Homo sapiens: one gene and its partners. The protein of the gene in region 1 interacts with the protein of each later gene in a biochemical or structural test. Each region holds a gene or a part of one and is shown in the gene's direction. Other genes may lie near its edges. The genes, in order: MAGI2, XKR7, KCNJ12, DOCK4, KCNB1, ATP2A2 and RSBN1.

Region 1 (4,591 bases):
AGACTGTTACCATGGCAATAGGCAATGAACAACAGAATTAAATGGCCTCCATACCATGGTGACAATTTTTCAGTTCACCTTATTAATGATCCCATAATGGTAGGGATTGGCTATTTCTTTTGAAACTAGTAACCCCCTCAGCTTAAAGCAGTTTGGATTCACAAAACAATGCTACACTCCTAGCTCTCATCTCTGTGTTTATTTCATTAGTAACTAATATCTAGAAGCAAGCAAGAGATAAATGTTGGACATAAACATTTTTGCCTTCTCTTCCATCTTATGACCACAGTAGTATTTGATGCTAATCTTGATAGCTATGATCTAGTATTACCTCTGTGTAATATGTTTCCAATTTTACCAATGGTCCAATGACTTGCCACTTGGTTTGTAGTTGGTGATTATATTTTACCATCACTCCTTTAACCTCTGTAAAATATTCAAAAAGACCCAACTCAGCAGGTTAAAATAGCCTTTGATTGTGTATTTGTAATGTATTTAGAGATCACTTCAATCATGTTTTTATGAAGTAATGAATGATCTGCCAAGGGGTGTGTGTGAGAGAAAAAAGTAAGAGTGAGAGAGGAAGGTTGGTTTACCAGTCTTAAGATAGGCTGATGTCTTGGTTTGTATAGTTCAGTGCTTCAATCCCTTGATTTGCTGTGGCTGTACAGTTTTTAAATAGCCAAAGTCAAAGAGGAACATCCATGAGTGCTTTTTCACAAGGTTCTGGTTGAACCATCATTTTTACCTTGACTTCGTAAGGAGCCAAATAAAAAGCATACAATATGGCATTTGTCAGAGATTTTTAAATAATATTTAACCTTCTCATAATCCTGAGCATCCAACAGGACCACCGAGAGGAGTGGTTTGTGTGAGCTGTCATGGCTGGCCCACCTCTGGAGGCCGTGTGATCACTCTAGCCTCTTTAGAATGCAGAGTTACAAAAGCAAATCCCATTTCCATTGATTTAGTTACAGGTCGGAAGTGAAAGCAAGGCAAGATGTGAAACCAGACATCCGACAGCCTCCATTCACAGACTACAGGCAGCCCCCGCTGGATTACAGGCAACCCCCAGGAGGGGACTACCAGCAGCCCCCACCCTTGGACTACAGGCAGCCTCCCCTACTGGACTACAGGCAGCACTCCCCCGACACCAGGCAGTACCCTCTGTCGGACTACAGACAACCCCAGGTACCTCCTCCCGGAGAGCAGGGTGGGTCCTGACCAAGGCTTCCAGAGAACTGCAAGGAATGAAATAGGAGAGGCAGAGGAAAGAGTACCTGTCTGGGATGGAGAGCTGAAGTTCTATTCCTAGTTCTGGTAACATCGGGGTAACACCTGCATCCTCAGAAACATGCTGGATAAATAAATCTATTTCAGAATAAAGCAGGACAATAAATAAATATGGATAAATACATAAATAAATAGCGGATGAGTAGTAATGGAATAAACTAATCCCTGCTAATACTAGCTAACTCCTTGTACGTTTCCTTGTCAAAGTTTTAAAAATGCTCTAACCTGGGACCTCTGAGAGTGCTGCTAATGCAGAAAATTTTATAGATGCTAGCAGTGGAGGTATTTTAGGTCCATATTTTTTTACGTGGCCCCCTACCTGCCACTCTGTGATAAAGGGCCAAGCCCCTGTGCGTAAGAATAAGACCAGGCTTGGCTTCACAATCCAGAGTGTAGCGCCTGCCACAGCCAACAACTCTCTGTCTACACAACCAGTGTCACTGTTGTTATGATTATTTGTTGATGTGCTTCATGTCAACTTCCTTAACTTCTCTGAGATTCAGTTTCCTAAAGGGAGAGTCTTCCTTACAGGCCAGGATGAGGATTCAACATTTATGAAAAGAGTCTAGACCAGAGTTTGGTATCTAGAAAATATTTCCTACTTCGTAACTACATACCAAGATATAAATTAAGTACAATCTCAACTCTATCAGATTACATTGTGTTTTATTATGAATTGAAGATCAACTTTATGCCCAAAGATTTTAAGAATAGTGAAGATCAGAGAATCTTGGACATACTGCATTTTAGGTAAAAGAGAAATTGATTTTGTACATTCCAACTTGATATTCAATAGTCTGTGCAACTGAGAGATCTAATTATCAGATCCCACTAAATTTTACTTTTCTAATCAGCAAACTCTGTAATTTGTACACACACACACACACACACACACACACACCTGACATTTATTTATGGTGCTCAATAGCAGTGAATGAGAGAAGTAAAAGGAGAGATGATGTCACTCAGGCCTATCTGTAATCATTCCACGTTTGCCAAGTAAACTGATGAATACCAAAGTAAACAAGCTACACAGTAATTCTTTGATGACCAAGTAAACTGTGCTCTGGCCTGCTCAAACCTTTGGAATTTTGTCTTTCATTTGGGTAGTTTATGAAGCCAGATTACGACTTCTCCCAACATCATGTCATTTGGAATACATTAACTAAGAGACAGAAGGAGAACACAGAGACTAGCCACAGAAGCTTCTCTGATAACTAAATAATTATTTATTCCATTTTCTCCCCAACCCCAAAGGATTTTGATTATTTCACTGTGGACATGGAGAAAGGAGCCAAAGGATTTGGATTCAGCATTCGTGGAGGAAGGGAATACAAAATGGATTTGTATGTGTTGAGACTGGCAGAAGATGGACCAGCAATAAGGAATGGGAGGATGAGGGTAAGAACAGTCTCTTTTTATAGAATTGCTTAATTCTGAAAGAAAAACCGACTGTGGTATTGGAAGAGTACTGAAGCATGCTGTCAAGCGGGGTTGCTGTAGGTTTGCCCTCTTTCTAGTTGATGATGACCCAGTTTCTTAAAAGTCTGGCCACTTGCTATTTTATAATATCTCTCATTCTCATTTTTCTGCTTATGACCTTCTAATTGATTAACCTCAGTAAAGTACTATTTTTCTAAAGAGCAAATGAAAGAAATCTAAGAAATAGCTTGAAAAGGAAACATTATTTCTCCATAATTCTTTCTATGGTTTGATGATTCTGTTTTGATTAAGGTTGAATCTTTTGAAATTTATTTTTAGTTTTGTGCTTTTTCCCCCATATTGATTAATCACATGGTTTTGCGGGACTTTTAGGAAATTTTTCCTTTGTGTTGACTGGTCTTTTGGTTTGATACTGGGCAGACAGAAGCATTAGGAGTAAAAGGGATTTGGCTTCTTGGATACAGGTTGTTCTTAAAAATGACAGCAGGGGCCGGGCGTGGTGGCTCACACCGGTAATCCTAGCACTTTGGGAGGCTGAGGCGGGAGGATCACAAGGTCAAGAGATGGAGAACAACCTGGCTAACACTGTGAAACCCCATCTCTACTAAAAATACAAAAAAATTAGCCAGGCGTGGTGGCGGGCGCCTGTAGTCCTAGCTACTCAGGAGGCTGAGGCAGGAGAATCGCTTGAGCCCAGGGAGGCGGAGGTTGCAGTGAGCCAAGATCGTGCCACTGCACTCCAGCCTGGGCAACAGAGTGAGAATCTGTCTCAAGAAAAAAAAAAAAAAAAGACAGCAGCTAGAAATTTTCCAATTAAAGTTAAGAGTAGATTTTTTCATTTAATAATTACTTTGAGGCATCTGATTGATGGGTAACTGATTCTTCATTTAAGGGTATAAAACAAAGCTTGTTAACAATATAAAATATTAGTCTCTTTACTCTCTCTGTGTGTTTGTGTGTGTGTGTGTGTCGGTGTATGAATAAAATCTAGAATTTATTCTTGCCCTCCCTCCTGCCTCTTTAAGTTAATAAAGAAAAGCTGTGGCTTTGGGGTTCCGGAACCTCAGGTTCTTGTGCAGAGCCTCACCAACCAATTTTCCCTGATGGCTGAATCTGTTATTTCTACCACCAAGTCTGCATTTCTATGATACGCATTTCCAAGTCAGAGGATTATCCACAGTCCAAAAGCAGAAGGCATGCACATCATGTCTTTGTTTCTCCCCACTACCACAATCCTTTGACAGCTGGGAAGCATCCAAGTTGGAATTTAAACCCAGGCAGGGCTGACACCAGAGACTGGCAGCCCTCCCCGTGATCTAGCACCAGCCTCCTCTTACCCCGTCTAGCCCTGATTTGAAGATGGGCCTCCACATGGTTTCCTGGCTCTACAGCTTCCCTATAAGCCAGAAGGACACTTTCTTAACCTGCTATAAGGCCAGCTCACAAGCAGTTAAGTAAAACAAAATTAATCTTTCCAGTGCAGGTGAAACACAGTAGGAAGACCATGTGCAAAATGGCCAGAGCCCTGTGAGAGATAGAGACCCACGGTGGACTACAGGGCTGGTCTCTGTCGGTTACAAACAGTGGCCATGTATTTTCACAAGGGATCTAAATGACTCGCTGCTGGATATACACAGTACTCCCAAGGCAAAGAAGCCTAAATAGAGAAATACCCTTGCAGGAAAAGATTCCTCTTTCTTACAGAATTTAAGCCAGAGCAATGGTTCTCAGCACGGTTCCTGGCATCAGCATCACCTGGAAACTTGGTAGAAATGTAGATTCTCTAGCCCCACCCAAAACTGCTGAATCAGAAACTCTAGGAGTGGGGTCACCAGGCTATGTTTTAGGAAGCTCT
Region 2 (3,459 bases), on another chromosome or scaffold:
CTGATCTGTGTATTCTGTTGTGAGGAGGAGGACACTGGAGGCCTGCTGCTCTGCTGTGGGGGATTCTAGCACCTGTCACAGTGGTGGGGGAGAAGAGGTTCTAGAGCCCAGCGTGAATGGAATTTTCTAGGAATGGGTGCTCTCATTCTAGACTTCTGGGGCTCATGGGAGCTCTAGGCCCCTGTTACCTTGGTCCATAGCCATCTTTCTAAAAGGAAATTGTCCTCAGAACCCCTGAGACATTTCAGCTGCCAACTGGTTCCCAGCTGGAAAAAAAAATAGCTCTGGGGACGTGACATGAATCCTGGCTCTCAGCCACTCTGCAAATGGGGCTCCCTGGAGCGGCATCTGGGAAACTGACTTGTTTTGCCTTAGATCTGATGACTCCCCAGGACCTGTGGTCTATTCCCATGGCCTGAACATCCTGGAGTGCCCAGGGGACTCACCCAGGGCCCCTCCTCCCACCTAGGACAGCCAGTGCTGGATTGAGGGGGCGTATGGGAGAGGGGAAGTAGGCAGTTCCATGGGGTGAGGAGACAGAGCCTCTAGCAGAGCTGGGAACCCAACCCACCCCCCACCCCCCCACACACACACTCCCACAGCAACTTAGGTGTGATTGGTGGGAGAGGACAGCAGCGGATGTTAAGGACAGATGCCAACCTGATCCTGGAGTGAGGTGGGCCATGAGAATCCTAGACTATGCAAATTAGAGGGATGCTTAGCCCTCCCTGGTTCAGCCTCTCTTGGGTTACAGATGGGAAACTGAGGCCCAGAGTGGCAGCCACTCTCTCAAGGTCCCAGACTCTGGGCTGCCCATCAAAAGGTGATGGGTAATGATGAATTGCTGGGGATGCAGGGTAACCCCAAAGGCAGGGAGGGCCAGACTGCCCACATACACACAAGCACAAGCACAACCATGATACGGGTCACCCTCCCCACCAGCACACAGGCCGAGATGGTGTACGCATCATCCCTCCTGCCAACACAGCAAGAGTGCTTTTCCTTCTTTCTGCTGCTAAGCACCCTCAGGAACGAGGCCTCGAGGGTGACGGGAGGTGGGAGAAGCCCAAGGCTGACCCAGGCCCACTCTGTTGGGTTCATCCATCCTCCAAATCCATCTTTGGAGGCTGAATTCACACACAAAGCCGTTGTGAGATGGGAGCTCTGAAGATGCGGACCCAGACCCAGAAACAGACTGTTTCTCCAGGGCCAACTTTGTGCCAGGAATTTTCACCCCATGTCGTTTCACTTACACTCTCCTCTGGTCACGACGTCCCTGCAAGAGAGGTATTATCAACCCATCTTACAGACGAGGAAACTGAGGCCCAGAGATGTAGCATGAGGGTCACCCTTGGCAAGTTATTCTCCTCCCCAGTATCCCAGAATGGCCCATCTGGCTGCTGCCTTCTAGAGGAAAAGTCCTAGCTGGGGTCCTTTACACTCCAGGAGACTCCCAAGGGGCAGGGATGTGCTGGCAGGGCTTGGCATGGTCTGAGGCTCGCAGGGAAGCCATGGCTACATTTTTGGATTTTACTCCACCCCCACTCCCCACCTCTTCTCAACCCCACACACCCTTCCCTCAGGGCTTCTGCCTGCAGGGACATCTGGGCACAGGAATGGCCACAGTCAAAGGGCCCAGGGAGAGGGCTGCAGGCACCTCCTCCTGCTTCTCACCCTCAGAAGAGTCTCAGCCCTTAAAGGACTCTCCACCCAGGAGCTCGGGACCAGGCCTGAGGCCCCCTGCTCCACTGGCTTGTCCCTTCATTTCACTGGGATAGAGGAGTCAGATGAGGGAGGGGTCCATCCCCTTGGAGCTGTTTTGTTTTTCTTTCTGTGACACAATCTACCTCAGCCAGTCTCTCCCCTAGCAGAACTGACCCCCCTGGTCCTCTGCCTCCTGTCCCCTGACCCCCACCCCAGTCTGGATGTTCAGTCCTTCCCTGTCCTTCCCACCCTGCCAGGGTCCTTGCAGCCCAGAGGGTCCCTGAGGGTTCCTTAAGCCACCTGCCCTCCACATCCATTAGACAGGAGAAAGTGAGACCCAGAGAGGACCAAGGACTCACCAAAGGCCACACAGGAAGTCAGTGGCAGTTAGGATTTCCCTGGGGATGAGAGGTAGTTGGGTGTGTCTTAATTTTGCCAGGAACAGAAGAGAACAGGATGCTTTGGGTACCAAATATGGCAGGCCCTGCCCTCAGTTACCTCTAACCCCAGGAGACCAGTGTCCCCATCTCCAGGGCAGACTTCTGTCTACCTGTTTTCTTAGAACTGACCCCCACGCTGTTGACTGTGTTCCCCAAACCTCTGCAGGCACCACACACACCCACATCACGGCGCCTCCTGGCACTGATGTGCCATGTGCCTTGTAACTGTCACCCCAGCTGAACAGCACAGACCTCCCCACTCCCCCACACAGGGCTCCCCAATGAGGGAGCCTTGCTTGATCCCCTCCTGTCATCTGCCTCATTCTTGTGTCTCCCCCAAATCTGCCTTACCCCCAGCCAGCTCCCTGCTACACCTGTGTCCCACAGAGGCATGTCACCCATGAGAGTCGGGAAAGACAGAGGGCAGGGAAGGTGAGGCCTGGGGAAAGTCCAGGCCTCTGGATAAGGGCTGAGGGAGCTGGGAATATCCAGGGAAGGTCTCGCTTGCAGTCAACACCCTCCTAAGTACTCGAGTTCTGCAGGTTCTTCCCTTGGAATTAATCTGGACCTGGAGTCCACAGAAGCCTCAGACAATAGGGAGAAGGTTTTCTGGGACGAAGGCTGCATGGGATGCAAACTCAAATGCCTCGAGATAATGAAACTAAGAGTAATGGAGACAATAGGGAGTGTTGGGGACTCTGGCAGACAGGAGAGTGAGTGTGTGCCCTGCCTGTAGGTACTAAAATTCAAATGTTTGGGAAACTGCTGGCCACTCATATTTGGCCCACGTGCCACCAGTTTGAGACTTACGGTTCAAAATGTTGAGAAGGTTCTGGAGTGTCCTGCCAAGTGGAAACCCCTCAGCGGAAGTCAGGGACAGAGGCTGTGGCTCCCTCTGAGACTTTGCTAGTCCAACCCTAAATCCCCATCACCTGGCTATCTGAGAACTGAGCCCACTGCCCTCTCAGCTGAAAAGGGAAATCTGGGGGGTCCACAGGGTCCCTGGTTTGGGAATCATCTGATAAGGGCTACAGGCCCCTCCAGTGCCTCATGGGGTTAGAGGCTGCTGGAGTCTTCTCCAGCTTGGGGGCCCCTGGTTAGGAGGAATCTACATTGGGTTGCAGGGGAGTCCAGGTGCAGGATGTGGACTGAAAGCCAGGACCCAAGAGTCCCATTCTGTGCTGGCCCCTGCCACCTTTGGCACCTGTCTCCCTCCCAGTTCAAGCTGTGGTGGGGCCTGCAGTAGAGGTTGGTAGGGGGAGCTGTAGTTTCTATATTAAAGTGCTTTGCAGTGTCTCAATGGAAGGGAACAAGT
Region 3 (4,591 bases), on another chromosome or scaffold:
AGGGTGGCTCCAGTGTGCTGGGCCACAGGGACACCCCTCTTCTCCACTGGAGGGCCGCTGTAGGCATACAGTAGGCAGTCTGTAAATGCTGGCTGTTGACCCAGAGCTGGCAGGTAGGGGCTCCAAGTCCTCTATCACCTCCTTTTTCCCCTCCCAGGGGAGGGCATGGCTGACACCCCTCATCCCCAGCACTGAAGGGGGTGGAGCCTTCTCTGGGAGGGGCAGGACCTGAGCTGTCAGTCCATCTCTGGACACTCCCCCTGCAGCTACCCCGTCAAAACCCCATAAGGTTTCCAGGCTGCCCCGGAGGGGACCCCTCCAGGAATGTGCCTCAACTGTGCTGGAAGGAAGAGGTGCCTGGGAAGTGGTGGAGGGGTATTGCCTAAAACCATGCAGTGGGTTGGGTTTGGACAGATGCCTTCACCTAGCTCTTTCCAGGCCAGGCGCTTACCCCACCAGCCTTCCTGCCCCAGGGCCATGGTGTCCCCATCCCTGGGTCTCCTTGAAGCAGGACAAAGTAACACTGAGTGGCCCTGCAACAGCAAAATAATAATGACAGCAGTGATAACAGGAGTAACAGCAGCAGCAGCACCTGCAGCTCTGCAGCACTGGGGCCGGTTCTGCCTATGGGCAGTTTTCTCTGCCTAGCCAGGCCTCCGGTACCCTGGGCCACAGTTGGCAGTACCAAGCGTGGCACCCGGAGGCCTTGGCATATGGCTGGGGCGGAAGTGAGTGCATCATTACTGTCATCAACCTCTGTGGCCCTCGCCAGGTCCCCAGGCAGAAGGCTACTGGTACACACGGTGCCCACCCAGTGGCCACCCTCACCCCCCCTGCTCCCAGGCCCAGCTCTGGGCTGGGCCCTTCCTCCAACAGGTGCAGCTGGTGCCTGTGGCTGGGCCCTGGCCAGGGCTTTACTGTGAGCGACACATGGGTACACCTGCCCCTCCCCGGGCCTGCCCTTGGAGCCCTGCCACCGGCTAGCGTGGAGGAGAGTCAGGGAGGGGGCAGCTTGCGGGCAGCAGGAGGGGTGGAGGCTTGGCTGGCCACATGGAAGGTGCGGTGGGTGGGGGCTCAGCCCCACGGGATGGCTGTGCCGGGAACTGGCAGCGTGATGGGGACACGGCAGCAGGGAAAGGCTGAAGATGAAAGAGAGCTGGCCTGAAACTGGGCCGTGTGCAGGTTGGCCAGAGCTTCAGAGGCACCATGGGGTTGGGGGTGGGGGGGGGCCTGGCAGAGGCAGGTGGGTTTTCTGAGGTGCTGGGCTCGGGGCAGGACCAGAGCCCCCGCTGGGCACTGGCCAAGGACCCAGCCCTGGGTCAGCTGACTTAATTTCCTAATGGCCTGCCAGTGCAGAGGGTGGCATTAGCTCTATTGTGCAGACAGGGATTGGAGGCCCAGGGAGGCACTGGAGGCACCAGCCTGTGGGGCTCAGACCCAGAGCCCTGGTGCTTTCCCAGGGACAGAACTGCACCTTCCCCCATTCCACAGACACACCCCTCAGGGGCATTTGACTGCCAGGCTAGCTTTCTCCCTGCCTTACCACCAGGCAGGTCCCACACAGGGCCTGAGGCCTGCATGCCATCCCAGCTCCCGGGAGCTGTATTCCTAGGACCTAGTTAAGCCCTGGCACAGAGTAGGTGCCCAGTAAATGCTCGATGATTCCATGTCTGGACTGCTTCTTCCAGCCACAGAGGCCTTGCTGTGCTGGTGAGAGCTGTGGGGGCTGAGTTCTGGGGCTGGAGACCCCAGGCCCTGTTGCCTAGCTGTGGCCCCTGTGCTGGGTAGCCATACAGAAGTGCTTAATCAATGGGCATTGCATACGGGGAGACCCAGCCCCTGCCCTCAGGGATCTCACTATCTCAGAGGAGACTCTTGGACAGACTCAGGGGGGCAAGAGAGGCAGATGTTGCCACCAAGATGGGGTCACTCTTCCTGGCCTCAGTTCATCATCTGTGAAGTGGGACTGGCTCCGGAGAGTGCTCAGGATGGGGCAGTAGGAATGTGAGACTTGGAGCGTGCCTCTGGGAGTTGGGGGTGGGGAGGGGCTGGTCTCAGTAGAAATGGACGTGTGGAGAGGGGGATCTGGGAAGGAGGGGGTGTGAGCATTTGTGGAGCCAGAGCCTGGGGAACTCGTCATTTCCCCATCCAACCTTCCCTTGGACATGTAGGGAAGCAGGCCCAGGGCAGGGCAGCGAGTTGCTGTAGCAGTGGGCCCCAGATGGCAGTGGGCCCCAGATGGCAGTGGGCCCCAGATGGCAGTGGGCCCCAGATGGCAGTGGGCCCCAGTGCAGGCCTCCTGTTTCCTGGTGTGTCCTCAGTGTCCCCTAACCCCAATCACCACCACTGGTGCTCCACAGCTCACTCCTTCCTGCCTGGCTGCTGAAGTGGCAGCATGAGGCTGTGGAGACCTTGGGGACCCCCGCCCAGCCCTCTAATTAGCCTTCAGCCATGCATCATTGGACATGGTTCCATTTGCTTGGCCAGATAGGAGTGGGAACCCCTTTCTCAGCTGCCCCAGGGAGCAGTTCCGCCTTGGCTGTGCATTAATGCTGTCCTAGGGTCAGTGGGCACAGCCTCCTGGATCCTGCCTGACTCCCCCTGCCCACCTGGACTGAGCCCTCCCTCCTGCTTGGGCAGCCAAAGCCTCCCTCTCCTGCCCTCACCTGCAGCCCAGGCCTCTTTGAAGGACTCAGGCTTGGAGAGGGGCCAGGGAACAAACAATAAAGCTTATGGAGTGGAGGCTTCTACCAGAGCCACTCTGGGCCATTGTTCCTTGAGCACTTTCTATGTGCCTGGTGCACTCTGGGTGTCAGGGCCCTCTGTCGATTCCCACCACACTCCTCCCTGGGACCCTCAGGGCCCTGCACAGTCTGGCCTCACTTCCAGGACTCTTGCTCCCTCCCCGGGGCCACGCTCCTGCTTGCCTTGCTGTGCTTCCAACAGATCAGGCCCACTCCTACCTCAGGGCCTTTGCACATGCTGCTATCTCTGCCTGGAATGTTCTTTCCCAGATCTCTGCACGGCCCCTCCCTTACCGCTTTCATGTCTTGCCCAGATGCCACCCTCTCTCCAGGACCTCCCCTGATTCCCCTGTGGGACACTGCAGCCTCCCTTTCCCCCATGTTCCTTTTCCTGCTTTATTTTTCTCTGTAGAACTTAATGCTATCTGCCACAATATATTTTATTTGCTGATCTTGTTTACTGTCTATCTTTCCCTTGGAATAGGATCTCCTCTTTTTGGACCTATTCTACCACAGCTGTGTCCCCAGTGCCTAAGCGGTAGGCAGGAGATGGCAGGCGCCCAGTAAACACAGAGAGTGAATGGGCTGCTTCAGCCAGGCCTGGTGCCTGACATGCAGTGAGTGCTTGGTAGCAATGGTAGCCAGCATTGTCAGCCCATTCTGCAGATGAGAAAACTGAGCCTCAGAGAGGTCACTGTCCAAGAACTGTGGCGCTTGTTGGTGGACAGAGCTGGATTCTGACCTTTTCTCTGAGCCTTTGGCCTGCCATCTGTCTGTCTGGCTGAGTGGGAGGGAGTTGGGGCTTCCTTCAGGCCCCTACTCTGGGTGGAGTGCTTTATATCTGTACCCTCACTGCTTCAAGCTCCAAGCCCTGTTGTGTCCTCTAGCACTTGGCCTGCTTCAGCTCAGGATGTCCCCATCTGATTCCTTCTGAGGATCACAAGCCGTTCCCATTGCAGATCCCAGCAAACTGAGGCCTGGGGCGTGGGGCCTCTCATATCTCAGCTGATGGCTGAATCCTTTCTCCTGCCTTCAGCATACATGTTTGGAGGGCGGCTGAGGGGATGGGGCTGGCAGGGAGGGGACAGTGTCTCTGTTTCTTGCCCAGTTAAGCATTCCAGACTCCCCACGGTCATTGAGTTTCATGTCAATGCATTTCACCTCTCCTTTCCAGTCTTTTTTTTGGAACATGACACCCACGTTATAAAATGTTTAAAAATGTTTATGATTTGCAATGATCAACTCCAGCGGCTTTAGTGGCCAGCAGTGATCACCTCTGCAACTATAGAGACTGGCATGCTTTCTGCTTGCCTGAGCACTGCCCGTCCCTCCTCCCCTGGATGTCCATGTTGCCTCAGAAAAGACAGGGCTGGTGGCCCCTTTTGTGGGGAGCAGATAGGTTCTGGTCCTGGGCCTCAGCCAGGTGTGCCCGGTTGGCCAGGTGTGCAGCCAGGTGTGCCAGGATGGGAGATTGTCTCCTGGGGCTCACCTGGGGAGTGGGGGCAGAAAAGGAAACCAGGTAACATGAGGACTGGCAGCAGGGATACTTCTCAGCCCTCCCTGCCTCCACCCCAAGGGTGTACAGGAGGGTGCGACGTGACACCTCCACTGTGGGAGCGGGCAGCCTGAGGCCAGAGAGGGTCCCCACAGCCGGAGGTCACACAGTTCCCGGAGGAAGGCTGGGGCGCAGCCTTGAGGCCACAGACCCTCTGTCCCTGATGCTTCCAGGCAGCTTTTGGGGACTTGGCAGGGGAGGGGCCGGGGAGAAGGGAGCATGTGGAGACTGAGATGTGTATGATAGAGAGGATGAAAGGCCGGGGGCAGGAGAGGTCAAGGGGGATGGAGTG
Region 4 (4,591 bases), about 34 Mb from region 1:
GGGTCTTTTGCCCCAAATTACTGCTGTTGTTCTCAATATCACATGTGCCAGAATGTTAATTAACCTTTATTATTAATTTTTGAGCATTTGGATTGTGGAATGCTTAGCTGTTTTTTAGAATCCATCTGTTAGGCGTGTGTGTGTGTGTGTGTGTGTGTGTGTGTGTGTGTGTGTAGTGAAATTTTTGCTAGGATACTTATGTGTGGACTTTATTTTTCACCATGGAGGGCACTGTTTATAGCTGCTTATATTGCAAGTTGTTTGTTTTTTCTTTTAACCTTGGTTAATGTTTGTGTTTTTCTCATGTAGTTCTTACAGATGTTAAAGAAAAGATCTTATGGGCACAGATCTTTGTTACCAAGTGTAGTGGTAATTTAGTTTCTTCATTCTTTGAAATAAATCAGTCTTTGTAACAGAATATGTGACGTTTTAGTATAAATTATATATTTCTGCAAAGGTACTTTTTATATACCCTCATTTATGTATGAGATAATTATGCTTTTATATACTTATGATTAAATTTTAAGCAGCATACTGTAAACATGGGTAAAATTAGTTAAATTTTATATCTGTAATTAAATGTATCGGAGATGGAAATTCTTTTTCGTAACTGATGTATAGGCACCGTCCCATTTAATGAATGATTAAATTCATTAAAACAACGAAAAGTCAGTCATAAGTGTTCTGATTTTAGGAAAAGGTATAGTGATGAAGTTATAGTTCTGAGGAACAGGGAACCTTGTCTTTTAGAAATCATGTTAAGAGGCACAGTGATAGGCAATTTCACCTTAGGAGATTCTAGTTAGCTCTTGATTCTGGGCTAGACACTGCTGCCAGCTGTGTAACCTTAGGTAAATCACTTAGCCTTTCTGGGTCCCAGCGTCTGGGGCAAGTGTTAACTAAAGCCTTCCCTGGTACTAATTTTGTAGAGCTCTTCCAACTAACTGTGTTCTTTGGTTAGAAAAACATCTTCATTGTGTTGAGACTGCTATGACAGAGACACTTTTGTTGTGACATATCTCACTTGGTTTTTAAGTAAGATCAGAGGTAAGCAAACGCTACCTGGCAAGCTGCCAGAACTGAGGTGCTGGTTCCTCTCTTTCTCAATTTGTTTGATTCTCTCTGGCTAGTAGGAGCTCCATGGGCAGTGACTGAAGCATTTTGTTTGTTTTTTAAATGTATTTTCCTTGACAAATAATAATAATATATTTTTTAAGTTTTCATTTTTTTTTTTTTAATTTAGAGACAGGGTTTTGCTCTGTTGCCCAGGCTGGAGTGCAGTGGCTATTCATAGGCGCCATCATAGTGCACTATAGCCTGTAGCCTCAAGCTCCTGGTTGATCGCCTCAAGCAATACTCCCACCTCAGCCTCCTGAGTAACTGGGATTACTGACATGCACCTTCTCACCCAGCTGTATATATTTATGGTGTACAGTGTGATATTTTGATGTACGTTTACAGTTGGAGTGATTAATCAGGCTATTAACAAATTACACCTCATATAATTACCATTTTTGTGGTGTAAAAAACATTTAAAATCCATTCTAGCACTTTTGAAGTATACAATGCATTGTTATTTATTGTATCTCCATTCTGTGGATATCACCTCCCATCTGTTAGAATGGCTGTATAAAAACAATGAAAGGTAACAAGTATTGGTGAGAGTGCAGAGAAAAGGGAACGCTGTGCACATGTTAGTGGGAATGTAAATTAATACAGCTGTTATGTAAAACAGCATGGAGGACCTTCAATGAACTAAAAATAGAATTACCATATGATCCAACAATTCCACTGCTTGGTATATATTCACAGGAATTGAAATCAGTATGCTGAAGAAATATCTGCTATCCCATGTTCATTGAAGCAGTTCTCAAAATGTCTGAGATATGAAAGCAACCTAAGTGTCCATCATCAGATGAATGGGTAAAGAGAATGTAGTATCTATACACAATGGAATATTATATAGTCTTGAAAAAGGGGAAAATCCTGTCATTTTCAGTAATGTGGAGGGTATTATAGTAAATGAAGTAAGTGTAAGTCTGGCACAGAAAGATAAGTACTGCATGATCTTGCTTACATGTGCAATCTAAAGAAGTTTACTTCATAAATATAGAGATTAAAGTGATGGTTGCCAGAGTCTGGGGGAAGAGGGTGGTTGGGGAAAGTGGAGATGATGATCAAAGTGTACAAAGTTTTGGTGAGACAGGGGGAACATGCTTTAGTGATCTATCGCACAGAATGGTGACTAAAGCATTCTTGATCGCATACTCACCAATTTCCTCAGATTACCTCTACCTCCTGCATGTCCTCATCTGTTAGCACACCCCCCCATTCCTCCCCCCTCCCCACCCCGCCTTAAAGTGGTGGGAATTATTCATGGAGAAAGCTAAGACCTTTGCAGATTGTTTTTGCGTTCATTTGTCCAACAGGCTTTTATGCACAGATTCACAGATGAGTCATGGCATCTTCCTGAGCTGAAGGCTGCACCCCTCAAACCTAGCCAGATGTTTTACATGTGTGAGCTTAGTTAAGCTTGACAGGAGAACACGGGCTGGATTGATCGGTGCAGAAAATCCATGAACCTTATAAGAAACAAAACTCAGAACAAGCTGATCTGAAGTCACAGTGTCATTTAAAAAATAAATTGTGTGGTGCGAGTATCACTCAGTCATCACATAAATTCCTGTATTCTATTTTTCTTGAAGGAGTTTTTGAACTCATCTGGGTAGGAATCATGTTCCTTTTTAAAGCCCCTTCTATGTTGGTGGAAGAAGATGCACCTTCTCGTATTCATACAGGATAGTTAGGTGTCTTTCTCCTTAGAAAGATGCTTTAATCATAGCGTATGTGTGTGATAGAGCGTAATAAGGATGTGTTTCCTTTACTCTTAGTTTTTTGTAGTTTCTTAGCTAACAGTTTCTTAAAGTGTTTTCTATTAGTGGTCCTATGATGTATCTACATAGCATGTAAAGCTAAATAATAATGTTCTGCTTGGAATTGTTTGTGACATTTAGAGCCTGACACAGGATTCTAAACTTTAAGTGGGAATAGAAGAGAAATGATTTATACCTCCCAGTAAAATACCACCGAAGGGCCATACAGACAGTGGGATAGCAGCTTATGTTCTTGATCTGGCCTCCTATGGGAATGGTCTATAAAAATGTTCCCCTCTTTTGGTCATTCCCCTAAGTGACAGTTCTTCACAAGGCCCCTGAAGCCACATAGAGATGCTGCTCTTCCTCTATGATCTTGTTTTTTTTTGTTTTTTTTTTTTTATTTTAGAGGCTGTTATGGTAGCTAGTACGAGGGAGATTATACAAATTTCAAGAAATTTAGGATTTCCTATCTCTAGCTCTATTCTTTTCCAAAAGGAGACAACATTTTCTGAGTTATGTTTGATACAATATGTCTATGTTTCTATCACAGTGACTTCATGCTGTGAATATATACATCAGAGGAACATTAAACTCTAATGAAACCCTTCTAAAAGGCTGTAACCGTAACACAGTAATACAATGTTTTACTTAAAAAGTGAAATTATTTTATCTGAGTCTACCCTTTGAAGTTGAATGGTAATTTCTATTTAAGAGATGAGAAAACAGTTTCATAGAGTTTAAGTGACTTACTCTAGATTAGTAGCTTTTAATCTTGTTTGACTATTACCCATAAGAAATATAGTTAATTTCCTGACCTAGTATATATATAAATATCCCCCAGTACCACCCCACACACATATAATTAAAACAGCACTTGCTTATACTCTATGTAATGTTCTATTCTTTTTTGTTAAAAAAAATACTTGTCACTAAATTGACTTGTTAATGGGTCCTGACCCACAGTTTGAAAAACACTGCTTTAAATGCTACATTTGTGATACCAGAAGGACTGCAACTCACATCTTACTGGGTTTCTGTGAAGTTCCTTTCATGACATTGGCAAGGAGTTGATGGTGGTGGTGGTTATTGTCTTTGATAGTCAGATATGTGGGTTTATTTTAACAAAGAATTTAATTATCCTTTTTTCCTTCAGTCTAAGTCAAAGTCTGTCTTCTGTAGTATTTCTTATTAAAGATGGAACAAATATTTAAAGCCATCACATGCATTGCGTAAGTTTTCTCTTTTAGTACTTGTATGTCTTCCTACCAGGACCTTTTTGACAAGGATTACATAATGACCAATATTAGACTCTTCTGTATCATGTCCTTTGACAACACTCTCTGGTCACTATAACAGAAGAGTAAAGATAATGGTTTACTGAGGTACTTTGCCAGTTGTAGGTTTACCACTCACTATTCTTTTGTACCTTTTTTTATGTTGCTGATCATTATTAGAAAGACAAGGCAACTTGTATAACTTGTTTTATTAAAAAAGTGAACTATATGCTTATTTGGCTAGAGTATATAAGACAAAAAAATAAGGAATTAAAGTTCCCCAAGCCTAGCTTCATTTAAGCAACTTAAACTTACTTCAGGAACAACTCTTGGACTCTCTGGCATTTAAAAAAAATTGTGCCAAGATGACATTGGGTAACTACTAAGTAAATAAAAATCATCAAAAAAGTGGAATGCCTTTGGTAACGTAACTGCAGTAAA
Region 5 (4,591 bases), on another chromosome or scaffold:
ATAATCCCGCCCCCAATTTTGTGTCCAAAAAGCCTCCTCCTAAGACAGAGTCACTCACCCTTAATCAGCTTAGGATCAACAGACTTATTTTGCTATTTCCAGGCATGACACAGGTTCTCCCACTGCACATCCCATTTAGGCCCAAATGTGACTCTCCCTCCCTGTCCCATCCCTAAGACATGAGAACAAGGTACAGGGAACTGGACAATTTGCCCTCCCAGAGAAGAAGCAGGCACAGGGCCATGTTTTGGTCTGGCAGCAAGACCCAAGCACCGGGGCTTGCAAGAGGTGCTGTTTGGGAATAAAGAACCTCTCCTCTCCCTTGGGTTAATCCGCTAGCAGGGACAGCCTTGTGACCTCTCCATGATCCCAGTCTGGGGCTGCCAGCTCACATTCCTGGCAGATGGACCATCTAGGATTTTCTGTAGCCAGAGCTGAAATGGGGAGGGAGGCAGGCTCACTGGCCCTCAGAATAGAAATCCTGGCTGCCAATGATCAAACACCTACTGTGTATGGAGTGTAACAACGCAGCTCTGTTATTATCCCACCTTTCGCAAACAGTGAGGCTGAAAGAGGTTAAGTAACTTGCCTAAGGTCACACCACAGGCAGTCAGGAGTAGCCAGAAATCCAAACCGAGTGTTCTTTCTATAATGATCAAGTGCCGCAGCCTCCTCCCCAGTCTCCCGGCTTCCACTTTTGCCCCTGCAATCCATTCCCCACATAGCAGCCAAAGTGAGCTTTTCAAAATGTAAATTGGATCACATTATTCATCTGCTTAAAATCCTCCAGAAGTTTCCCATCACACTCAAAATAAAATTCAGACTTTTCATCCTGGCATACAAGGCCCAGGCAGAATCTGGCCCCCATGACCTCTCTGGGCTCATCTCTTTTGATCTCCTCTGGTTCACTTGGCTCCAGCCCCACTGGCCTTGCTGTTCCATAAACAGGCCAGAGTTTATCTGACCTCAGGACCCTTGCACTTGCTGTTTCCGCTGCCTGGAATGCTCTTCCCCAGATTCCCCCTTGGCCAGCCCCTTCTCCCCCTTCCTCATTTGAGCAGGTCCCTGCTCACATGTCCCCTCCTCATACAGACCTTCCTTGACCGCTGTTCTAAACAGTTTCCCTCCCCTCACTCTCTGTTGCATCATGCAATGCCTTTCCTGCAGAGGCCTTAAACGCCATCTGAAATTATATTTCCTTCTTTGTGTGTCTCTGTTTCACACCCACAAGAATGTGAGTACCATGAGTTGATTCACTGCTTGATTCCCAGCACCCATGATGGTGCCTGGCACTGAGGAGCATGTGGAATGAATAAATGAATGAATGAACGAATGAATGAATGAACGAATGAATGAATCAAGCAAGCAAGCAAGCAGTCAGTCACTGTGTCTCAGGGTTTGGGGACCTGTCACCCCTTCTCACTGCCCACCTGCAACCCAGGTCCCTGTGCCTCTGGCCTCCTTTGAGTCATCTGCACCTTGCCCATCCCATCCCCACCCATCCCCCCAGCTTGGATGCCTTGCTTGTCAAAACAAGCAAAGCCTGTGGAAATTGCTTAGAACTCACAGAGTGACAGGACCAAATGGAGGATCATTTCTAGGTGATTGTAAGATACAAAAGTGGCCATATCTCATATGCTGAAGAGCAAGGATGGATCTGGTTCTGTGCCACTCCCCACTTCCATAGCTTTTAGCTAATTTCTCCAACTTTCCAAGTCCCAACCTTCCACCTGTAAAATGGAGATAAAAGGCTCACCTTACAGGGTCTTCATTAAATCACATTTGTCAAAATTTTGCTCAAAGCCTAGCACATAGCAGGTGGGGATTGTTGTTATAAATGCTAAGGAAAAGAGTCTTTTTTCTAGGGCTGGGTGGGCCGAGTTGCTGCAAACCCTTTCCTTCTGAGAGCAGCAGGGCCAGGGAGACTGAGCTGACACTGTTAATAATTGATGGGATGTTCTGGCAACTCGGAGACAAACCAAAGCACAGGCCCTAGGCTTTGCCATCAGGGGAGCGAAAATCAAAACCCATTAGGCAAAAGGCAGTGTGATTGATTCTTGTTTAGAAGATGGGGACAGCCCCATTGGTGTGACAGGGTTGCGGTGCTGGGGCTACCACGGGGCTTTGGCTTTCTCGGAAAACTCGACAGGCTTTTCTCAGTAGGAGAGACAGGGAACTGATTTGCCAGCCCAGGAGTGTCTGTGATCCCTGGGATAGTCTCAGGATTAAAGCCCTGAGATAACTTCCTAATTTCCAGGGTAGCTTATGTTTGTTGTGCCCAGCACTGATTAGTGGTGCTTCATATCTGCTATCTCATTGAAATTCCTCCAACAGGGATACAACCAGGTAGTATGCCAGTTAGGGATGCTTTGGGCTGCAAGCAGCAGAATAGAAAACTCAAAGTAGCTTCAATAAGGAGGAAGATGCATCATTGAATATAATATGAAGTTCCAAGGCAGTTGGTTTTAGGTTGAGTTAATGGCTCAATGATGCCACCAGGATTCTAGATTCTTTTCATCTCTCTGCTCCTCTGCTCCCCAACCCCTGCAAGTGGCTTGGTCCTCATGCTTGATGCTTCATATCACAAGATGGCTGCCCAGTTCCAGCCCTCAGACGTACATTCAGTGATGTTTAATCCGTGAAGAGAAACATTTTCTCCTATGCTCCACTTTCTTTCTTTTGTTTTTGAAATGGAGTCTTGCTCTGTCGCCCAGGCTGGAGTGCAGTGGCATGATCTCGGCAGCTCACTGCAACCTCCGCCTCCTGGGTTCAAGCAATTCTCCTGCCTCAGCCTCCTGCCGAGTAGCTGGGATTACAGGCATGTACCACAATGCCTAGGTAATTTTGGGGTTTTTAGTAGAGACAGAGTTTCACCATGTTGGCCAGGCTGGTCTCAAATGTCTGACCTTAAGTGATCTGCCCGCCTTGGCCTCCCATAGTGATGGGATTACAGGTGTGAGCCACAGCGCCTGGCCCACTTTCTTTTTTTTTCTGAGAGGAAACCCTTTCCCAGGAGCACCCTAGCAGACTTCTTTTAAAATCCCATTGGCCAGGACAGGTCACATGCTCATGCTCTAGCTCTGAGGGAACCTGAGAAAGCAAGTGTCTGGCATTTTCAGATGAGAGAGGGAATGGATCTGATAAGTGGTATGAAGACTCTTTTACAGAACAGGAAATGGAGGCTCTGAGAGGCGAAGTCACTTGCCTGAGCCCACACAGCTAGGTTCTCAGTAAATATTTATCAAAGGAATGAAAATTGCAGAGCCAAGGTTTGAACCCAAGTTTGTCTGGTTCCCAAGCCTATGTTTCTAAATCCTGGGACCTTGGGTGGATCATTTTAGCTCTCAGGTCCAGTGAATTCATCTGCCTGATGGTGATAATAGTCATAGCTCCCTTTCAGGGCTCTTTTGATGATTCAATGAGATTTCAGATGTGAATGTAATTTGTAAATGGAAAGTACTTTATAAGTATGAAGTATTATTGTATTCAAAAGTGGGAGTGGCCTTTATTTATTTATTTTTAATTTTTTAACTTTTTTCAGAGACAGGGTCTTGCTCTGTCACCCAGGCTGGAGTGCAGTGGTGCAATCAGAGCTCACTGTAACCTCAAACTCCTGGGCTCAAGTGATCCTCCTGCCTCAGCCTCCTGAGTAGCTGGGACTACAGGTGCACACCATCACTCCTGGCTACATTAGAAATTTTTTTTTGTGGAGACAGGGTTTTGCTACATTGTGCTGGCTGGTCTCGAACTCCTGGGTTCAAGTGATCCTCCCATCTAAGCTTCTCAAAGCACTGGGATTAAAGGTGACAGCCATCATGCCCAGCTTAGAGTGGCCTTTCTTTAGGAACAGTGGTCAATATTTTTCCCATCACAGACTTGATTAAGAATCAGCTCTGGAGTCCAACAGATGCGGTTGATTTCTTGTCTCCATTGCTTACCATGAATATGACCTTGGGCAAGCCCCTTTCCTTCTCTGAGTGTCACTTTCCTTATCTAGGAAATGAGAATTATAACAGAGGCAACCATGAAGAGCTGTTAGGAGATGCCCCTAATGTAAAGAGCCTAGCCCAGCGCCTGACTCATGGGAAGCATTCAGTAAGTGGCAGCAACGATTGTTAGTGTTTTCACGGAATTCCTCTGCTCCAGCTACACGTCTCTAGTGTAATGAGGTTCCAGCTTCCTTGACCTGAGCCACAAGGATCTGTGTATTATCATCAAAAGAAATGCGGGAACCAACTCAGAATCTATGGGGCCCCTTCAGTGTGATGAGTCATCGACTTAGGCTCTTGCTGGCCCCAGCTTGGTCAAACCAGATGCCTGTTTTTATCCTGGCAGATAATATGCCAGCAATTCTGAATCCTGATTGTGGGGTCACACAGACCTGGCTTCGAATCGCAGCCCAGCCTTGTCCTAGCTGTGGACTTTGGCCAATTTGCTTCACCTCTCATCACTTCCATTTCCTAATCTGTAAGTGAGGGCGATAATAAAACCTACTCCACAGGGTTGTCTGAAGGATGAAGGATGATAGCACATGATCAGAGTTGAAGCTGTGCCTGAGAAATCCCACATCCCCACAGGATAAAGAAACCCA
Region 6 (3,264 bases), on another chromosome or scaffold:
GTTCACCCCACCCCACCCCACCTCTCCCCACCTTACCCCCGCCCCGCTTGGCTTCTTCTTTAGGATTGTGATGGTTCGTTCTGTTTACATCAGTTTTAACGAGAGGTATGCCTGTACTCGCTTGTGCAGAAAACATTGTTCCAGATTCAATCGACTGGGTTTATGTCCCTTCACATAGTTTTTAAGGTTATTTATTTAAATGTCTAATGTATTTTATTGTAACAGACATTGTTTTGCCAACATTGCCTATTTCAGTGGCACGTCATCTAGTTTTAAAAAAATAAAACATTTTAAATGGACAGAGAAAAATAACTGTCTTGTCTTTAACTCGTAAGTGGCTTACCTGGGACTAACAGACATGTCCAACTTTCTCTCCAGTTCTTAGCTCAGAACTTTAGTTGTACTCTGCTTGAGGGGAAGAAGGCTCCTGCTCTGCTGTGTAGGTAGTCATAGGAATTGTATTCTTAATGTACAGGCACTAATTGTCATCTGTGATGTACATTTTATGCAAGTTTCTGCTGGCCTGGTATAGAGAACATAAGGGCAAGTGTGTATGTGTGTGTATGTGTGTGTTTTGTAAAATCTGTAAATAGCACATGACCAAATGAACATATTGTATAGAACTATTTTTATTTGAATGTGGCACTAACCACCACCACCGTTACTACGATCAATGTTTGCGCATGTTCGAGATGAGTCTCACCAACAGTGTGTAAGTCATTAACAGTCCTAACTGTGGTGTTTTCCTCCAATGCCTTCCAACATCCATCAACTAACGTGAGTATTTTCTTCCTGGGATTTGGATGCTTTAGCCTAAAGGTGACTGCCACCAAGTGAGATAACTGTATGTCACTAACTTATAAGCCGCCTCCATGGCAGATGCTGCTGTGCTCCCTGATGCCCTGTGAGCACCGGGGTTGCCTGTGGCGCCTGCCATGTGACTCGGGCGCAGCATCAGCTGGCTGGAGGTGTGGCTTTCATAGACCTCCACAGGCTGCCTAGGACAAGATGACCAGGAGGGCCCAAGCCAGACAAAAGCCGGAGTGGGGAGAGAGGCATTTCAGCCAGACCAACAGGCTGAAGGAGCTGTGCAGACTATTGCTAAAATGAGGGTTCGCAGCTGCCAGGAGTCATCCCAGAACATTGCTACTTATTTATTAAAAAGCTAAAAACTAGTGAAAGCAAGTAACTGAACCAGTGAACTCTGGGTATCGATAGGTTCGTCTTAAATAGGCCACTTCCCCACTCCCCCACCCCCCCTTGCTTGGTCTTGTCCTTGGTGGCTAAGACTTAGCTCTGCAGGGGATGTTAAAGCACAGTTAGTAGGACGTGGCTCTGCACAGCCCAAAAACCAGCTTACTCCTTAGCCAGGGTGTGAGGCCTCGACTATATTCTTCAAAATGTACTTAGGCTCTGGTTACTGGGATGGCCAGTAGATGTAATGCAGATGGTTGGAGTTTGGGGAGGGTTAGGAGGCATCAAGCAGGACAAGGTGCTGCTGAGTTCAGAGGGCCCACGTTCAAGGGATGGAGGTGGAACCTGGAGACCGACTCTTAAAAGCACAGTCCGTGGTTGGGTGTGGTGGCTCATGCCTGTAAGTAAGTCTCAGCCCTTTGGAGGCCACAGCAGAAGGATTGCTTGAGCCCAGGTACTCAAACCAGCCTGGGCAACAGAGTGAGGCCCTGTCAAAAAAAAATCAGCCTTACTGTGAAGCCTCCAAGGCTGCTCGCAGGCAGCTGTGGCTCTCGGGAAGGGAGGCTGCTTTGCCCAGCAGGGAACATTTGGGGCAGGGGGTAAATTTTGCCAGTTTGAGCATCATGAGGTGTAACAAGAAATGGGTTGAATGGGCCAAATGCAAGGAGTGCATCTCTGGGCTGCAAACTGACTTGAGTGCTGCACTATTGCTATTCCGTGCAAACAAAACTCAGCTTTTCCTGACTCAGTTCCTTGACTTAGTGGCCTTTACAAAAAAAGTTGAGTAGTGTGTGGCCTGCTGTCGCACAGCCCCTAGTTAGCTTCATGGTTTCTCAGCTTCAGACCCCTCCAGCCCACAGAGGAGCCCATGGAGGGACCCACTTCCCTTGGTCCAGACAGCTGGGAGTGGGTTAGGCCCACTGCTGTTTTGAGCAGGGCCACTTGCTCCATTTCACTGAAGGCTTTGCTGGGTGAAAACACTTCAGCATCTCCTCCTCAGGTCAACCCATAAAGACCAGGTCCAGCACCGTGGTCTTGGCACATCCCTGGCCTCAGGCCCTCACCTAACAGTGAGGCAGCAGCTGCCCAGCCCCGCAATGTGCCTGCTGTCAGGCAGCTCTTGCCTGAAACTTACTTCCACATTCTTTCCTGATGGGCAGGTGGCTGAAGGCCCAGCCATCAGTGTCGCTTGTTGCCACCCCGTGCCTCCCTTGGCCTCTCTGAGCTTTGCCCAGAAGACCAACAATCATACATACCCTAACTGGGACACCACTCTGCAGAATGCAGATGATCCATTCTGGAGGAAGCTGTCCCTTGAGCTCAGTGAGCTCCCAGGCAAGCAGGGCATCTGGCCGACTTCCCTCACAACAGCTGCTCCCACATCCCCTCGGACTGGAGCTTCAGCCCTGACTGAGGTGGGCAGACCTAAGACCTGAGACCACAAGATTAGCTCAGTGTCTACCAAGCATCTAGCCACTGTCCAGGGCCAGAGCATACCACGTCTGCAGTGCCTGTGAGCAGAGCCAGCAGTTGCCCTGTGACTGTAACCACCAAATTGTCCAAACACCCGCTGCAGTTAGCAAGAAGGGTAGGCTTCACCCTCCTTTACTGAGGAGAATGATGCGGAGGAGTTTCCTCTCCAGGGCTAGGCAAGGCAGGCGAGCAGCCAGAAGCCGGGTGCCCACAGGGCAGGGACAGGAAGGCTGTGCTGCTACTGGCTGCTCACTTCTCCATCAACCTCACCCTCTGCACCACTAACCAAGACCTTGTCCTCTTGCCTGTCTCGCTGCTTTCACAGCTGCAACGATTGTGTCTGCCTCATGGGGTTTTCCTCCAGAGCCTTTATTCTGTAGCCAGACGACACGAGGAGTCTGTGTCACTGAGCCAGTGCTTCTAGATGCTACCCTGTGTGGGCGGCACCTCAGGGACAGTAAATCAGAAATGCTGGTCTTGAAACCTTGAAAAGATCAAGCTGAATGTTCCTTTTCATCTGTCGCTGTTGATCTTCATCTATTTAAATAGGTATTCTAACGTTTCCTCTCTGTATTTCATGAAGCTGATTTCCTCTCT
Region 7 (4,591 bases), on another chromosome or scaffold:
ATGGTGGCGCACACCTGTAATTCCAGCTACTTGGGAGGCTGAGGGAGGAGAATTGCTTGAATTGGGAGGTGGAGGTTGCAGTGAGCTGAGATCATGCCATTGCACTCCAGCCTGTGGGACAAAGAGTGAAACTCCATCTCAAAAAAAAGGAAAAAAAAAAAAAAAAGATTGGCCTGTCTTGGTAACAGTGAGCCTCGTATCCTGGTATCTGGGCTAAAGTGAAGACTTTGAAGCTAGGGAGTACAAAATGAACATGGAAGATTAATATGACTATGGTCTTTTTTTCTCCCTGCCCTGATGATTTTACTTTTATATGTTTTTTTCTTAAATAAAGATCACACTCTAAAATATTACAAAGTTAAAAAAATCATTTTTAGAGAAGTTTAAGTATTAAATAGATATTAATGTCTTCAATGTTTCTTTGAGATCTTCAGGTTAAATCACACATTGAAATTTGCTTGTGGCATATGTATTAGTGTATTTGTCAGTGTGCTTGGGTGCCTCTCTGACTTTATTCAAGGTATTGACCATTCAGTTCTTAGTTTGTAGAAGAAATGGCAACGTTGGAAACAATAACCTATTTTAATTCTTTAATTATATTATAGTTGTACCTCAGTCCATTTTTCCCTCTTTTGTTTTATCTTAGGTCAACAGGACATACTGCTGTGGCACCTACCGAGCAGGTCCTATGCGGCAGATAAGTCTCGTTGGAGCAGTAGATGAAGAAGTTGGTGATTATTTCCCAGAGTTCCTTGATATGTTAGAAGAATCACCATTTCTGAAAGTGAGTGTTAATTAAGATTATTAAAGTTTTGATCTTTACTTAAGTGGGCACTTTATATGTTGAAGAGTATTTAGCTAATATTGCCTATTGAAATTAAATTTATCCAGTGTTTTGCACAGAAATGTTTAGATAGAATAATATTAGTACAAAGTACTTAAATTCAATTATTCTTTTTAATATAAATTACTATGTAAATAGCATTTATTTCTTTATATACAGTTGTAAAAAAGCCTTCTTAGAACTTTTATTTGGGTGGGAGGATTAACTTATAAATCATTGAAACAATTTTTTAATGTGACTAATCCGTCTGATTTCTAGATGACTTTGCCCTGGGGTACACTTTCTAGCCTCCGACTCCAGTGTAGGTCCCAGAGTGATGATGGGCCTATAATGTGGGTAAGGCCAGGAGAACAGATGATCCCTACAGCAGATATGCCAAAGTCACCCTTCAAAAGACGACGGTAAATATTTCTTTTTCTCAAATAAGCAAAACTACTTTTTTTTAGTTGGTTGCTTATAAAAATGAGCACAGTTTGAAAACCATTTGTCTTGGGCTCCCTTAAGTAAATGTTTTAGTTGTCGGTTCCTCTTTTCAGTCCAATCATCACAGTTATCACAGTGAGGCATTTTTCTAAAACACAAATTTAATTTTTACTTATTTTTTAAAAACCTGTGCCCTAACTGCCTGCAGGATAAAAGATCAAACCCCTTAGTGTGGTTTACATTAATAATCAGGTCAACTGTACCTCTTCTAGATGTATCTGTGTTTAGTCTTCTCCGGCCATACCGAATTCACTTTCCAAACCATAGTCTATCATAACTCTTTGCTTTTGCACTATTTTTTTTTTTTTTTTTTTTTTGAGATAGGGTCTCACTCTGTTGCCCAGAGCTAGAGTGCAGTGGTACAATCATAGCTCACTGTATTCTTGAACTTCTGGTCTCAGGAGAGCCTCCCAAGTAACTGTGGCTATAGGTGTGTACCACCATGCCCATCTGATTAAAAAAATTGTTTTGTGTATTTTATTTTTGTAGAGATGGGGTCTCACCATATTGCCCAGGTTGGCTTTGAACTCCTGGCCTCAAATGATCCTCCTGCCTCAGCCTCCCAAAGTGCTGGGGTTACCGTCCCACAGCAAACTTAATACATTTTCAAAACTTAGCTTGAGCTGGGCACAGTGGCATATGCCTTTAGTCCTAGCTACCTGGTAGGCTGAAGTAGGAGGATCAGTTGAGCCCAGGACTCCACGACAAGATCCTGACTCAAACCCAAACCAAAACCAAACAAAACTTAACTTGGACGTCACCTCCTTTGTGAAGTTTTTCTTTCCTTCCTTAGGTAATTAATTGTTCCCTACAATGTTCTGTTCATTAAAGTTTTGTTTACATGTTTTTATTTTCTACTAACATTTGAGGTGTGCTTTGGGAAGACAGGGACTATTTTATTCATCTTTGTCCTCATGACATATACTAGGTAACCAGTATTTGCTACATGAAACCAATAATGTTCTATAGGACCGAGCCTCAGTAATTCATATTGTGCTAACATGTTTTGTGTTTCAGACTTTGAAGACAAATGTAGATTAACTCACTCTCTAGTACTTTGAAAAATCTAATTTAATGAGACTGAAAATGATCTATACCTGCTTAGACTACGAAAATAGCAATTCAAAATAAGTGCCCAGAAGTGAGTTTTAATGGACTAATCTAAACCTTAACTTAAGGCTCATAGGAGAATGATACTTGAGCTAAGTATGGAATAATCTTAGGTACTTGAAATGTATGAAAATACTTTGAAAACATTATGTACGATGCAGGGTGGTGGCATGGTAAAAACCCAGGAGTCATTTGAAAGTTCTGCACATTGCTAGATTATAGCAGTTTTTGTTGCAGGATGATGACGAATCTTGAAATCTTATTAAATTGTTAAATACTATATACATTTTTTGTTCTGTAATCTTTCCTCAAAAAATGACCATCATTTGTTTCCTGATTTTTATAAACTTAAGAAAAAAGTAATAGGAAAGAGTAAAAAGAGGGCAGGTGCAGTGGCTCACACCTGTAATCCCAGAACTTTGGGAGGCTGAGGCAGGCAGATTGCTTGAGTCCAGGAGTTCAAGACCAGCCTGGGCAACATGACAAAACCCTGTCTCTAGTAAAAATACAAAAATTAGTGTGGTGGCACGCTCCTGTAATCCTAGTTACTGAGGTGGTTGAGGCATGAGAATCGCTTGAACTCAGGAGGCCGAGGTCGCAGTGAGCTGAGATGGTGCTTCTGCACTCCAGCCTGGACGACAGAGTAAGACTCATCTCAAAAAGAAAAAAAAAAAGAAGAGTAGAAAGAAGGCAGGCTGGGCATGGTGGCTCACACCTGTAATCCCAGCACTTTGGGAGGCCAAGGCAGGCGGATCACCTGAGGTCAGGAGTTCGAGACCATCCTGGTCAACATGGTGAAACCCCATCTCTACTAAAAATACAAAAATTAGCTGGGCATGGTGGCAGCCGCCTGTTATCCCAGCTACTCGGGAGGCTGAGGCAGGAGAATTGCTTGAACCTGGGAGGCGAAGGTTGCAGTGAGCCGAGATTGTGCCACTCCACTCAAGCCTGGGGGACAAGAGCAAGACTTCATCTCCAAAAAAAAAAAAAAGGTAGCCACCATTTAGGCATATTAACCTTTCAAATTATATATAGCCATAAATAATCTTTTTACAAAATCCATTCTTTGTGTGATGTTTACTTTAAAACTTGGGAATTTTTACTGTATGGTTGTATCAAGATTTATTTAACCAATTCTTGGTTTTTGTTTTTGTTTTTTCTTTGAGACAGGGTCTTACTCTGTCACCTAGGCTGGAGTGCAGTGGCATGATCAGGGCTCACTGTAGCCCATCTCCCAGGCTCAAGTGATCCTCCCACCTCAGCCCCACCAAGTATCTGGGACTACAGGTGCCTGCCACCATGCCTGGCTAGTTGTTTTTTGTTGTTGTTGTTGTTGTTTTTGAGACAGAGTCTTGCTCTGTCACCCAGGCTGGAGTGCGGTGGTGCGATCTCGGCTCACTGCAAGCCCCTCCTCCCGGGTTCACACCATTCTCCTGCTTCAGCCTCCCAAGTAGCTGGGACTACAGCCTCCCGCTATGATGCCCGGCTAATTTTTTTTTTTATTTTTAGTAGAGATGGGGTTTCAACGTGTTAGCCAGGATGGTCTCGATCTCCTGACCTCGTGATCCACCCGCCTCGGCCTCCCAAAGTGCTGGGATTACAGGCGTGAGCCACCGTGCCTGGCCTGTTGTTTTTTTTAATTTTAATTAAAAAAGAGTTGGCCCTCACCAACTCTTTATTAGTGTAATTTTTTCCCAGGTTTTCAATGTAAACAGTATTTTGAAAACATGATACTGGTGTGCTGGAGCCAGTTTGTACCTGTTCACAAAGGCCATCATTAGCATCACTTTCCAGTTCCACATTGCGTGATGTCACGTTAGTAACTGGAAATCATTCGTGTTAGGTGTATTTATACCATAGAAATCAGCAAATCAGCTAAAATCAGCCACCTCCCCTGACCCTCAAGTCAGATGTAAAGTATATAGAGCATACCACTGATTGTATATGGATGGAAGTTTGGTAGATATGTATGTTTGTGCATATGCGTGTTTGTTTTCTTTTTTTTTAATATTTTTTGAGATGGAGTCTCACTGTGTTGCCAGGCTGGGGTGCAGTGGCGCGATCTCGGCTCACTGCAACCTCCGCCTCCCGGATTCAAATGATTCTCCTGCCTCAGCCTCCCGAGTAGCTGGGACTACAGGCATGCACCACCAT

Evidence for each region.
Region 2: the proteins of MAGI2 (region 1) and XKR7 interact in a test that uses a peptide from one of them, tested with the Homo sapiens proteins (one large-scale study listed by IntAct).
Region 3: the proteins of MAGI2 (region 1) and KCNJ12 interact in a test that uses a peptide from one of them, tested with the Homo sapiens proteins (one large-scale study listed by IntAct).
Region 4: the proteins of MAGI2 (region 1) and DOCK4 interact in a test that uses a peptide from one of them, tested with the Homo sapiens proteins (one large-scale study listed by IntAct).
Region 5: the proteins of MAGI2 (region 1) and KCNB1 interact in a test that uses a peptide from one of them, tested with the Homo sapiens proteins (one large-scale study listed by IntAct).
Region 6: the proteins of MAGI2 (region 1) and ATP2A2 interact in a test that uses a peptide from one of them, tested with the Homo sapiens proteins (one large-scale study listed by IntAct).
Region 7: the proteins of MAGI2 (region 1) and RSBN1 interact in a test that uses a peptide from one of them, tested with the Homo sapiens proteins (one large-scale study listed by IntAct).

The regions. Positions count from the first base shown.
Region 1 is NC_000007.14:78,123,797-78,128,387, reverse strand, and holds part of MAGI2 (membrane-associated guanylate kinase, WW and PDZ domain-containing protein 2), read left to right. Parts: intron 1-971; coding exon 972-1,191; intron 1,192-2,550; coding exon 2,551-2,694; intron 2,695-4,591. UniProt on the Homo sapiens protein: Seems to act as a scaffold molecule at synaptic junctions by assembling neurotransmitter receptors and cell adhesion proteins. Plays a role in nerve growth factor (NGF)-induced recruitment of RAPGEF2 to late endosomes and neurite outgrowth.
Region 2 is NC_000020.11:31,998,460-32,001,918, forward strand, and holds part of XKR7 (XK-related protein 7), read left to right. Parts: 3' UTR 1-3,459.
Region 3 is NC_000017.11:21,378,575-21,383,165, forward strand, and holds part of KCNJ12 (ATP-sensitive inward rectifier potassium channel 12), read left to right. Parts: intron 1-4,591. UniProt on the Homo sapiens protein: Inward rectifying potassium channel that probably participates in controlling the resting membrane potential in electrically excitable cells. Probably participates in establishing action potential waveform and excitability of neuronal and muscle tissues.
Region 4 is NC_000007.14:112,199,410-112,204,000, reverse strand, and holds part of DOCK4 (dedicator of cytokinesis protein 4), read left to right. Parts: intron 1-4,591. UniProt on the Homo sapiens protein: Functions as a guanine nucleotide exchange factor (GEF) that promotes the exchange of GDP to GTP, converting inactive GDP-bound small GTPases into their active GTP-bound form. Involved in regulation of adherens junction between cells.
Region 5 is NC_000020.11:49,475,866-49,480,456, reverse strand, and holds part of KCNB1 (potassium voltage-gated channel subfamily B member 1), read left to right. Parts: intron 1-4,591. UniProt on the Homo sapiens protein: Voltage-gated potassium channel that mediates transmembrane potassium transport in excitable membranes, primarily in the brain, but also in the pancreas and cardiovascular system.
Region 6 is NC_000012.12:110,347,015-110,350,278, forward strand, and holds part of ATP2A2 (sarcoplasmic/endoplasmic reticulum calcium ATPase 2), read left to right. Parts: 3' UTR 1-378; coding exon of another isoform or gene 379-398; 3' UTR 399-3,264.
Region 7 is NC_000001.11:113,773,864-113,778,454, reverse strand, and holds part of RSBN1 (lysine-specific demethylase 9), read left to right. Parts: exon of another isoform or gene 1-635; intron 636-646; coding exon 647-784; intron 785-1,102; coding exon 1,103-1,245; intron 1,246-4,591. UniProt on the Homo sapiens protein: Histone demethylase that specifically demethylates dimethylated 'Lys-20' of histone H4 (H4K20me2), thereby modulating chromosome architecture.